2 separate regions of the Homo sapiens genome follow, and region 1 is linked to region 2. Evidence: fine-mapped expression QTL. A gene starts in region 2. The other region holds a variant in brackets. All regions are shown on one strand. Distances are between the middles of the regions. Region 1 overlaps ALDH4A1 (aldehyde dehydrogenase 4 family member A1). Region 2 holds the start of ALDH4A1 (aldehyde dehydrogenase 4 family member A1).

Evidence for each region. PIP is the estimated chance that this variant, and not a neighbour inherited with it, causes the effect. A credible set is the group of variants that fine-mapping cannot tell apart.
Region 1: its variant is the best candidate, but not a certain one, in a credible set for the expression of ALDH4A1 in lung (TOPMed, PIP 0.88).

Annotation. Positions count from the first base shown.
Region 1 is chr1:18,872,556-18,876,937 of GRCh38, forward strand. ALDH4A1 (aldehyde dehydrogenase 4 family member A1) reads right to left here. Exons shown (of 15, transcript NM_003748.4): 12 at 3,760-3,912; 13 at 2,827-2,948; 14 at 1,908-2,026; 15 at 1-402. The coding sequence ends at 290. Among named protein-coding and RNA genes, the nearest start is that of MIR4695, 8.5 kb to the right of the region's middle. RefSeq lists enhancers at 2,740-3,034, 2,842-3,341 and a silencer at 2,837-2,926. The variant A/G (reference allele first, on the strand shown) is at 2,616.
Region 2 is chr1:18,899,826-18,904,178 of GRCh38, forward strand. It overlaps ALDH4A1 (aldehyde dehydrogenase 4 family member A1), which reads right to left and starts at 2,730. Exons shown (of 15, transcript NM_003748.4): 1 at 2,637-2,730. The coding sequence starts at 2,698. It overlaps LOC124903866 (a long non-coding RNA gene), which reads left to right and starts at 2,288. Exons shown (of 2, transcript XR_007065519.1): 1 at 2,288-2,427; 2 at 2,985-3,546. RefSeq lists a silencer at 2,497-2,716 and enhancers at 2,797-3,026, 2,966-3,783.

The DNA.
Region 1 (4,382 bases), 27 kb before region 2:
CCACTGGGCCCAGTGGAGGGCAGAGGGAGAACCTGCCAGGCACCAGGGTCATACCTCCCACATGGCCGATGGGATAAGGGGTAGTGGCCATGTTCCTCCCCAGCACGATCTCAAACCAGAGCCTGAGGCATGGGAGAGGCCAGAATACAGTGGTAAGAAGGGAGTCAAGCCCGGATTATAGAAAGGCAGCTGTGCATGAAGAAGGGGTGGAGGGGCTGGAGTGGGGTCTGTGCAGTGAGGTCGGCCACCTGGACGGACAGACAGCTGGACGGTGGAGCCCGAGAGGGGCTCACTGCATGTACGCGTAGCTCCAGTCCCCCAGGGGCTTATGTGTCTCCTTGATGACCTGCGGCGACGTCCAGCGCAGGATGTAGTGTGGGCCCCCTGGCTTGTCATTGGTTCCTGCGGAAAAGACACTTCTGTTTTTCTCTGAAAAGATGCAACAGCCTGGGCAGAAGGGGAAGGGAGGAGATGATGGAATCAACGGACCAGCAGTGTAGCGGCCAGCAGCGAGCCTGCTGCCAAGCTTGGGGCATGCAGAAGAGCCAGAGGGATGGACAGGAGACCCTGCCTCCAGTCTCCAGTCTGTGGGGAGCCTCCATTGTTCTCTCCAGTCGCACCCAGCCTTGCATCCTTGCTGGGATGCGAGGATGTCTAAGAGGCAGGGTGTGGCGTGGAGAGAACACTAGACTGAGAGGCAGGGACTTGGCATGGTCCTGGGGTGCCATAAGAGGTACATATCTAGCCTTCACCCCTGGTTCCTAGCCAGAATTCCTAAAGCTCTTGGAATTTCCAGAGTGATGGGGGTGAAAGGAGTGTCTTCCGTTATTCATAACAAGCCCCTTCTAATCACACATGAGTTTATGCTAATGAGGGCTCTTGCAGGATGGCACTGATTGGCAAAGGAACCAACCCTGTGATTAGAGGCTTGGAACCTTCAGCCCCAGGGAGGGCAGAGGGGCTGGAGGTTGAGTCGACCCCAATGGCCAATGATTGAATCAATCGTGCCTGTGTAATGCAGCCTCCATAAAAACCTAAAAGGACAGGGTCGGGAGAGCTTCCAGATTGGTGAACACGTCCACATGCCAAGGGGGTGGCACAGCCCGAACTCCAGGGGGACGGCGGTGCCCCTGCCGGGGACCCTTCCAGTCTTTGCCCTATGTGTCTGCGCATCTGGCTGTTCATCTGTATCCTTTAAAATACCCTCTGCAATACATGGGTAATAGTAAGCACGCTTCCCCTCGGTTCCGTGAGCTGTTCTAACAACGTATCAAAACTCAAGAGGGCATCATGGGAGCTTCTAATGCGTCGCAAAGTCAGACAAGGTGTGGGTAACCTGGGGTCCCAGTACTTGTGATTGGCATCTGAAGTTGGGGGGTCAGTCTTACGGGACTGAGTTCTTAACCTGTGGGGTCTGCACTAACCCCAGGCAGTGAGCATCAAGTTAAACTGTAGGACACCCAGCCAGCATCCATCAAGAGCTGGAGAACTGGTCGGTGTGGGAAACCCCAGCACGCCTGGGTTCAGCCCTGGCTCTGCCACTCAGGAGCAGTCACCTTTGGCAAGCCATTGCTCCTCCTGAGCCTCAGTTCCCCATTGTGAAGTAGAGGTTGTTGGACTTAAGGGACACTGGCTATGGTGCAGAAAGTGCGGCTGCTGGAGCCAAAATTACAATCCCACCAGGGTCATGTGGCCTTGAGCCTCAGTTTCCTCCTCTGTAAAATGGGAAGAATAGTCCCTTTGCTCACGAGTTTGCTGAAAGGACCCTGAGCTAGTGCACTTGCTTGGCCCACAATAAGTGCTCAGTAAATGGTATCCTTCCTATTACTCTGAAGCCCCTCGAGACGTAACATCTAGGGTCTCCCACCAGGAACTCAGCTCCCCTGTGGGAAGGGGGACCCACTCACCAGAGGCTCGGGCCCCCCCAAAGGGCTGCTGGCCCACTATCGAGCCAGTGGACTTGTCGTTGATGTAGAAGTTGCCGGCAGCATTCCTCAGCACCTTTGTGGCCTCCTGCACGACGTCCCTACAAAGCAGAGCAGTGGTGACAGAGCAACCAGCTCATCTCCCCTCCAGCCCCAGCTCCAGCCTCAACACCCCTGCTCCAGCCCACACTGGCTTTCCAGGTTCAACAGGAGGCCGAGTCAGGGATGAGGGATGCTGCCAGCTGTTGGCTGTGGGCCTTCGGTCAGGTTACCCAGTCTCTGAGCCCAGCTTCCTCCTCTGGGGAGGGGCTTGGCACGCCTCGTTACAGGGCTACTGCGAAGTTGAAGGGAGTGGCCTGTCCTGGTCCAATGTTCCTGTCCCTCAGGAGCAGCGGAAACTCCAGCTCCCAGGCCCACACCCTTCCTCCCTCTCCAAGCTCACCTCCACTTTCTCATAGAGGCAGACATGGGGGCAACCAGTGCCACGGAGGAAAGAAGAGGCGAAGCCTCAAGTTTAGCCTCATGTGACCCAGGTTCGAATCCTGCCTCTGCAGCCCCTGGCCTGCCCTGCTTTGTAGCATGGGACAATCACCTCACTCAGTGGGGCAACACCAGATCCCGCAGAGCCAGTCGAAGACACCAATTCCTAGCCCTGCCCCTAGAGGTTCAGATCCACTGGTCCCCAGTGGC[A/G]CCCTGGCACCGGCACCACCAGTACCGGCAACAAAGAGCCTGCTGCTGTGGGCCCATGTGGCGAGCCCTGGCTGCCTGTCTGGGCTGAGGGGAGGGGACAGAGAGAAGGTAGGGGCAGCATTATTACTGGGAACCACGTCCAGGAGGTGGGGATGGGGACACGGACAGGACACCCGGAGCACAGCACCAGGGCTGCGGCCTGGCCACTCACTTATCCTGGGAGAACACTGCCCCCGTGAGGCCATAGCTGGTGGTGCTGTCAACCAGCTGCAGCGTCTCCTTGTACTTGTCATCCGGGTAGACGTACACAGACAGTACAGGCCCGAAGATCTCCTAGGAGAGAGGCCCCGGCGTCAGACCCTCCACGGGACCAGGGACCAGGGCCCTGAGCCCTCCCAGTGCCCCTGCTCTGGCTCACCCTCTCCCCAGTCCCTGGGCCTCAGTTTACACTTCAGTGTCTGCAAGAAGGGTCAGGTGTCGCCTCCTCCTGGGTTCCCTCCAGGACAGCAACGTGCCCAGCTCCCTGTCCTGTCCATCCCACCACAAGCCGGCAAAAGATGCAAACATTTTCTGGCTCTCCCTGCCAAACCCACACCCGGAGAACTAAGGGTCCAGGTCCCAGAGGCTTCCAGCAGCAGCTGGCATGAGAGTTGCCCAGAGATACCATTCCCTCCAGAAGGGTTCATGGTTCCCTCTGCCACCAAGGGGCTGGGGGGAAGATCTTCTCAGGCACACTCCAGCCCTGCACTACCAACTTGGGCAAGTGCCTTGACCTCAGTTTCTCATCTGTAAAATGGGAACAGTAACACCCACGTCATCTCAGCCAAGTGCTCAGCCACAGCTGGCCCCACAGTAAAAGTCTATCAGTGTCAGCCATTATGATGGCTGCAGTGGACGTGGTTGCTGAGGGCACTGGAAATGCTCAGACCCCAGCCAGGGTCAAGGACACAGCCCCGGATTTGGAGTTAGGCAGCCTGAGCTCAAAACCTGGCTCTACTCTCTCCCGGTCGGAGGCATTCCCTTTTAGGGTCTCCCTTTAGGGCCTCATCTGTGAAATGGGAGAATGTCTCCAGGAGAACTGTGTGTGTGCTGTGCTCCGGTGGGATTGTCCTCCTCTGGACCCCAGGCTGCCCACCCCAGTCACCTCCTTCATGATGGGCTCCTGAGGGTCCTTGCTCTCCACGATGCAGGGCTCCACAAAGTAGCCCACGGAGTCATCACACTTGCCCCCGGCCAGGATGGTGAGGCTGGGTGAGGAGCGTGCGTGCTCCAGCCACTTCTTGATACGGGCAAAGGACTGGGGTGGGCAGGGAGGAGGGAGGTCTAAGAGGCTGGGAAGGCATCCCTGCGGCAGCCCCCACAACACACTCACCCCGAAACACCTGCACCTGAAGGGCCCAACTCCTGAAACAGGGGCAGGGGTAGGGGACGCCAAGGGCAAAAGCCAGGGTCTGGCTGAGCCACAGCAGAGACAAGGACAGACATGAACACTGTGTGTGTGTGTGTGTGTACACACACAAGTGTACGTGTGTTAGTACTACAGGTGCACTCGCATATAAACACAGACACACATCAATCAATGCATATATAGGCATATGCATGGTCACATGTCTAAGCATGTAGGGATCTGCATGCCTTCTCCATGTACATGCGTGTGGGTGGACTTATCGACATATGCGTGTGTGTGCTTATGTGCAAATGGATATGTACGTGTTTATATGGAAAGACCTACATGTGGAGCCACACGGAGCCCTATATGAACACATT
Region 2 (4,353 bases):
GATTGACAAGGAAGGGCTCACATGATTAGTTCATTCATTCCCTAAATGTTTGCCAAGGGCTTACCAGGTGCCAGACACAGTTCCAGGGCCTGGGAACATACTGTAAGGCAGACAAGTGTATAAAGGGAAAAAACAAGCTACAATAAAGTATGGGCAGATGAGCTTGTTTCTATGAGGTTTTTTTTAAAAGCATATCTATTCATGGAAAGTTAAAGGACATGAATCAAAATGTTAACAGTGGGTACCTCTGTGTGGTACAATTCCAGGTGATTTTTCTATTTTTTTGCCTTATCTGTACTTTTCACAGTTGACATGTATTAAACTAAAAGAAAACATGTATCAAGGGTATTTTTTAAAACTAGCAGAGATTCCTGGCACTCAAGGCAAAAAAGAAAACACTAAGAAGCATCTCCTATACCCGTTCCTCAAAAGCAGCGGTTTTTCTCAGGACTAGAGTTTTACACGTAGGACACTGAGGGATGTCACTGAAAATGCCCTGCGACTGTTTCTCCATAAATGCAGACATGGCATGTCACGGGTGTGCTCTAAATGTTCACTGAGTAAATGAACAAGTGATCAAACATCAAAGCTGTTCCTCTAGAGCACTGGCTCTCAACCGGAGGTGACTTTTGTCCCCCAGGTAACATCTGACAATGTCTGGGAACTTGTGTTTCCTGTCAGGGCCAGGGTTTTTTTCGTAATTGTCAGGGCCGGGGGTGCCCCTGACATGCAGCGGGTAAAGGCCAGAGACGCTGCTAAACATTCTACAGTGCACAGGACAGACTCCACAGCAACCAAAATGTAGCCCCAAATGCGAATAGTGGTGAGGTTGAGAAATCCTGTCTAGGGCATGCGGCCAGCTGCTGTATCAAAGGGGTAACTTGAGCCCAGGGAACCAGCTGCAAAATGCTCTTTCTCTTTCCCCTCTCAATTCAGGAGGCCTCATAATTCAGAGCATAAATCTGGATTTAGACCAAATGTAATTTCAGTCATATATCTCTGATGGCAGATCGTTTCCCATGATAATACAGGAATGAGACAGTACTTACCGGCTCGGTGTTAGGCCCATGGTGCTTGATTGCTTGATAATCATTATTGTTATCATGGGCTTATCTTTTAGAATATGGATTGCTTTCTACTAGATATTGGAGGGTTTTCCTATGCATTTCTCCCCTATTAAGCCGAAAACTCCTCAAAGGCCCCACCCCATGTAAATTCCCTGGGTACCCCTCATCTCTAGGGTGTTTGGCAGAGCACCAGCTCACAGTAGGCACTCAGTAAACACAGGACTCTATAAGCTCCATCTTCCTGAGTCTCAGAGTGCAGGGAAGGCCTGCAAACGGGATCACACAGGGAGTATGGCAAGTGTGGCCCCAGTCTCAGCCTAGAAGAGGAACCCCTCTGTCCCATGTCCTCTTCCTGCGCCCTTTCCTATCCCCTCTTCACCCACAGAGGACACACAGCAGTGTTGCAACTCACTTGTGCTCAGAGCACCACCATGCCATCCCTTGGGGGAAGGGAGAGGGCCACTGATTAACTCAGAAAGGGCACAGCTCATCAGGAAAGACACTGCCACTAACAGCCCCAGGGGTCAAGCAAACAAACCTCAAATGGGAGGGGGGGCTGATCCACAGGTGGGCAGCCCCACCAGACTAGGAACCCCTCTGGGGCAGGGTCTGTGTCCCACCTACCTCTCCAAACCTAGCTCCGAGCTGGAGGGGCTCTGAGAATATTTGTCATTGAGTGGGCAAGGGTCCAGGCACCTGGCTCCACAATGTCAGGTTTGCAAATCGGGATTTGAAGGGCAGGTCCACCCCTGAACTGCTCCTGGGTTTCTTCATTATTTGGAATAATGACCTGCCTCACAGGAGTGAGAAGTTTAAATAGAGGTGATAATGATGATGATCGTGGCAATAATAATAACCGGGCGCTGCCTTTGTGCTGGGCACTGTTCAGTGCACTCCCCATGTATTAACTCATTTAATCCTCATAAGACACCTGCCAATTGCCCGGCCAGCATTTGGTTCATTATAAGCACTCTATAAATATGATTATTCCACCTACAAGAAGAAAGGAATCCTTTTTTCTGTCCAACATTTAACTTGAAAAAAAAAAAAAAAAACGGGCGGCGGGGTGTGTGGGGAGCGGAAAAGAGAGAGGTAGAAATCCTGGTAGAAGGAGAGGACTCGGGGAATCCGGGGCGGGATGGGGACACTGAACGTGAGACGAGGGTGGGGAAGTGAGATGTGTGGTGTGCTAAAAATAGAAGGGCCCCTCAGGGGAAGCCAGCAAATTGCGAAGATCCAGTATTAGGAGTGAGGTGAGTGACTACAGAGGCTACTTTCCGAGCGTGGGAACCGGCAGGGCCACCGAGGCACCCTACTCGGTCGCAGGATTCGGGAAGAGGGGTCCCCTCGCTAAAGGAAGGTGACTACCTGAGGGAGGAGGCTAAGGGATCTCAGTGGGAGAAAGGCCTGGGTGGGGGTCGGAGGGGAGCCCCTGAGGAACCCGGCGTTGACCGAGGCAGCTTGGGGGTCCGGCAGGGAGGGAGTGCGGCGCGGGGGACGCCCAGTGACTCTCAGGCTCCCGGGCCCCAGGCGCGCGCTCGGGCCGCCCCGGGCCCCGTGCTCACTCACCCGGCCCCGGTCCAGGGGCGGGACAGCAGGGCGCGGCGGAGCGCGGGCGCCGGCAGCAGCATCTCGGGTTAGAAGCGGGGCTGTTCGCTGGATCGTCCGCCCGGGCGCGGCGAGAATGCACAACCCCGTCCAGAGCGCACCACCTCGATCCTCGGGGGGAAACGGATCACCCCGGCTGTCCTCCGAGCTCGGGATCAGCCAAAGTCCCACTATATTTAGCTTCGGCTAATAAAAAATATTTCTAGTGCCATAACGGGGGCATTACACAACACAGGACAAGGGAACCCGAAAGCGAAGTCCTGAAATGCATGCGTTTTCCCCTCCTCTCTTTATGGTATGACCCGGGAGAGAGGGCGTGAACTCTGTCGACCAGTCAGAGTGACACACCAAAGCTTCTGAACCAATCAGCGGGGCGGTCCTGCGGCAGCCTTCCAAAGCGGAGCAGAGAGGGGCTGAATAGAGCCAATGAGATAACCGAAATGGGACACGTGCTGAAGCGGGGCAGAAGGACTCGCTGCGTCCGGCCCTCTGGCGTGCGCCCCGGGTTCGATGGGAGTCCGACTGACTTCTCTCGGGCTGCCGGTGGCTTGTACAAGGCTGGAAACCTGTCCGCTACCAGACTCCTCGACCCCGCAGGGCCACAGCGCGGCCAGCCCCCTGCTTCTTCCCGGGGGCTGCGGCCCCTGGAATGAGCCTGCCTTCCAGCTTCTTGGCCAGGACCCAGCCGCTCTCCACCTACCCTCCAGGCGCGGGGCCGGCCAGCTTCTTAGCTTCCTTGCAGATTACGATCAATGCAAGATAAAACCTGAGCTGGCCAACGCTTAGCTTTTCATTTAAAGCCTTTGGCCGCAAAACCAGTTGTTCCTGAGCCTTTTACCCCCAAGTAAAAATTTCAGCTTTCTTTGCAAAATGTTGTGTGCTTGGTAAACACTAGAATGCTATTTAAAACTTGGATTCTGAAGTCTTCTCTGATGACGAGGTCTCAGGGACCCAATCTATTCCTAAAGTAATGTTACGTTTCCTTACTCTCTGTTCTAATTTGTTTATATTTCTTCCAGCAGCATGAACCGCGCACCTGCTTAGGAGTCAGTTCCCATGCTGATTTTGGTTCCTCAAGCAGGGCACTAGGCAGACTACATATCCTTTCCGGGCCTCAGTTTCCTCATCTGTAAAACGGAAGTAATAGTACCCAACTCACAAAGCCCCCGTGATCTTAAGCCACTTATTTTTCTCCAGATTACACCATTTGAGGTACTTTGGGAGAATGTAAACATTTAAATGAAGAGTAGGAGAGGGAGATTACCTAAATGCCAAGTATTAGGAATGGCAAAAAGCAAATTGGAATTGGTGGCGGCTATTTGTCTTCACCTTTGGAGAAAACCCTAGACAGGTGGGCTCAGTTCACATTTGGGCAATGTTGCCCTGAACATGCCCATTGACAAGAAAAACTAGAACATTGGTTACTGTCAAATCCAGAGCCTGGGAAGGTGACCTCCTGTGGGCACGTTGGAGAGCCTGGAAAAATGGGGGCTTTGTGGTTAAAAGGACATCAGTTCCAAACCAGGCCAAGCCAGTTACTGAGCCTGTGATGTCTCATGTCCTCTCTTCCCCTTCAGTAAAATGTGTGTAATGATTCCTGCTTTGTCATCTTCCAAAGCTTTTATTGTGAGCTACAAATGTAACAGGTGATATGAAATCCCCTATTTTATGGCTAATT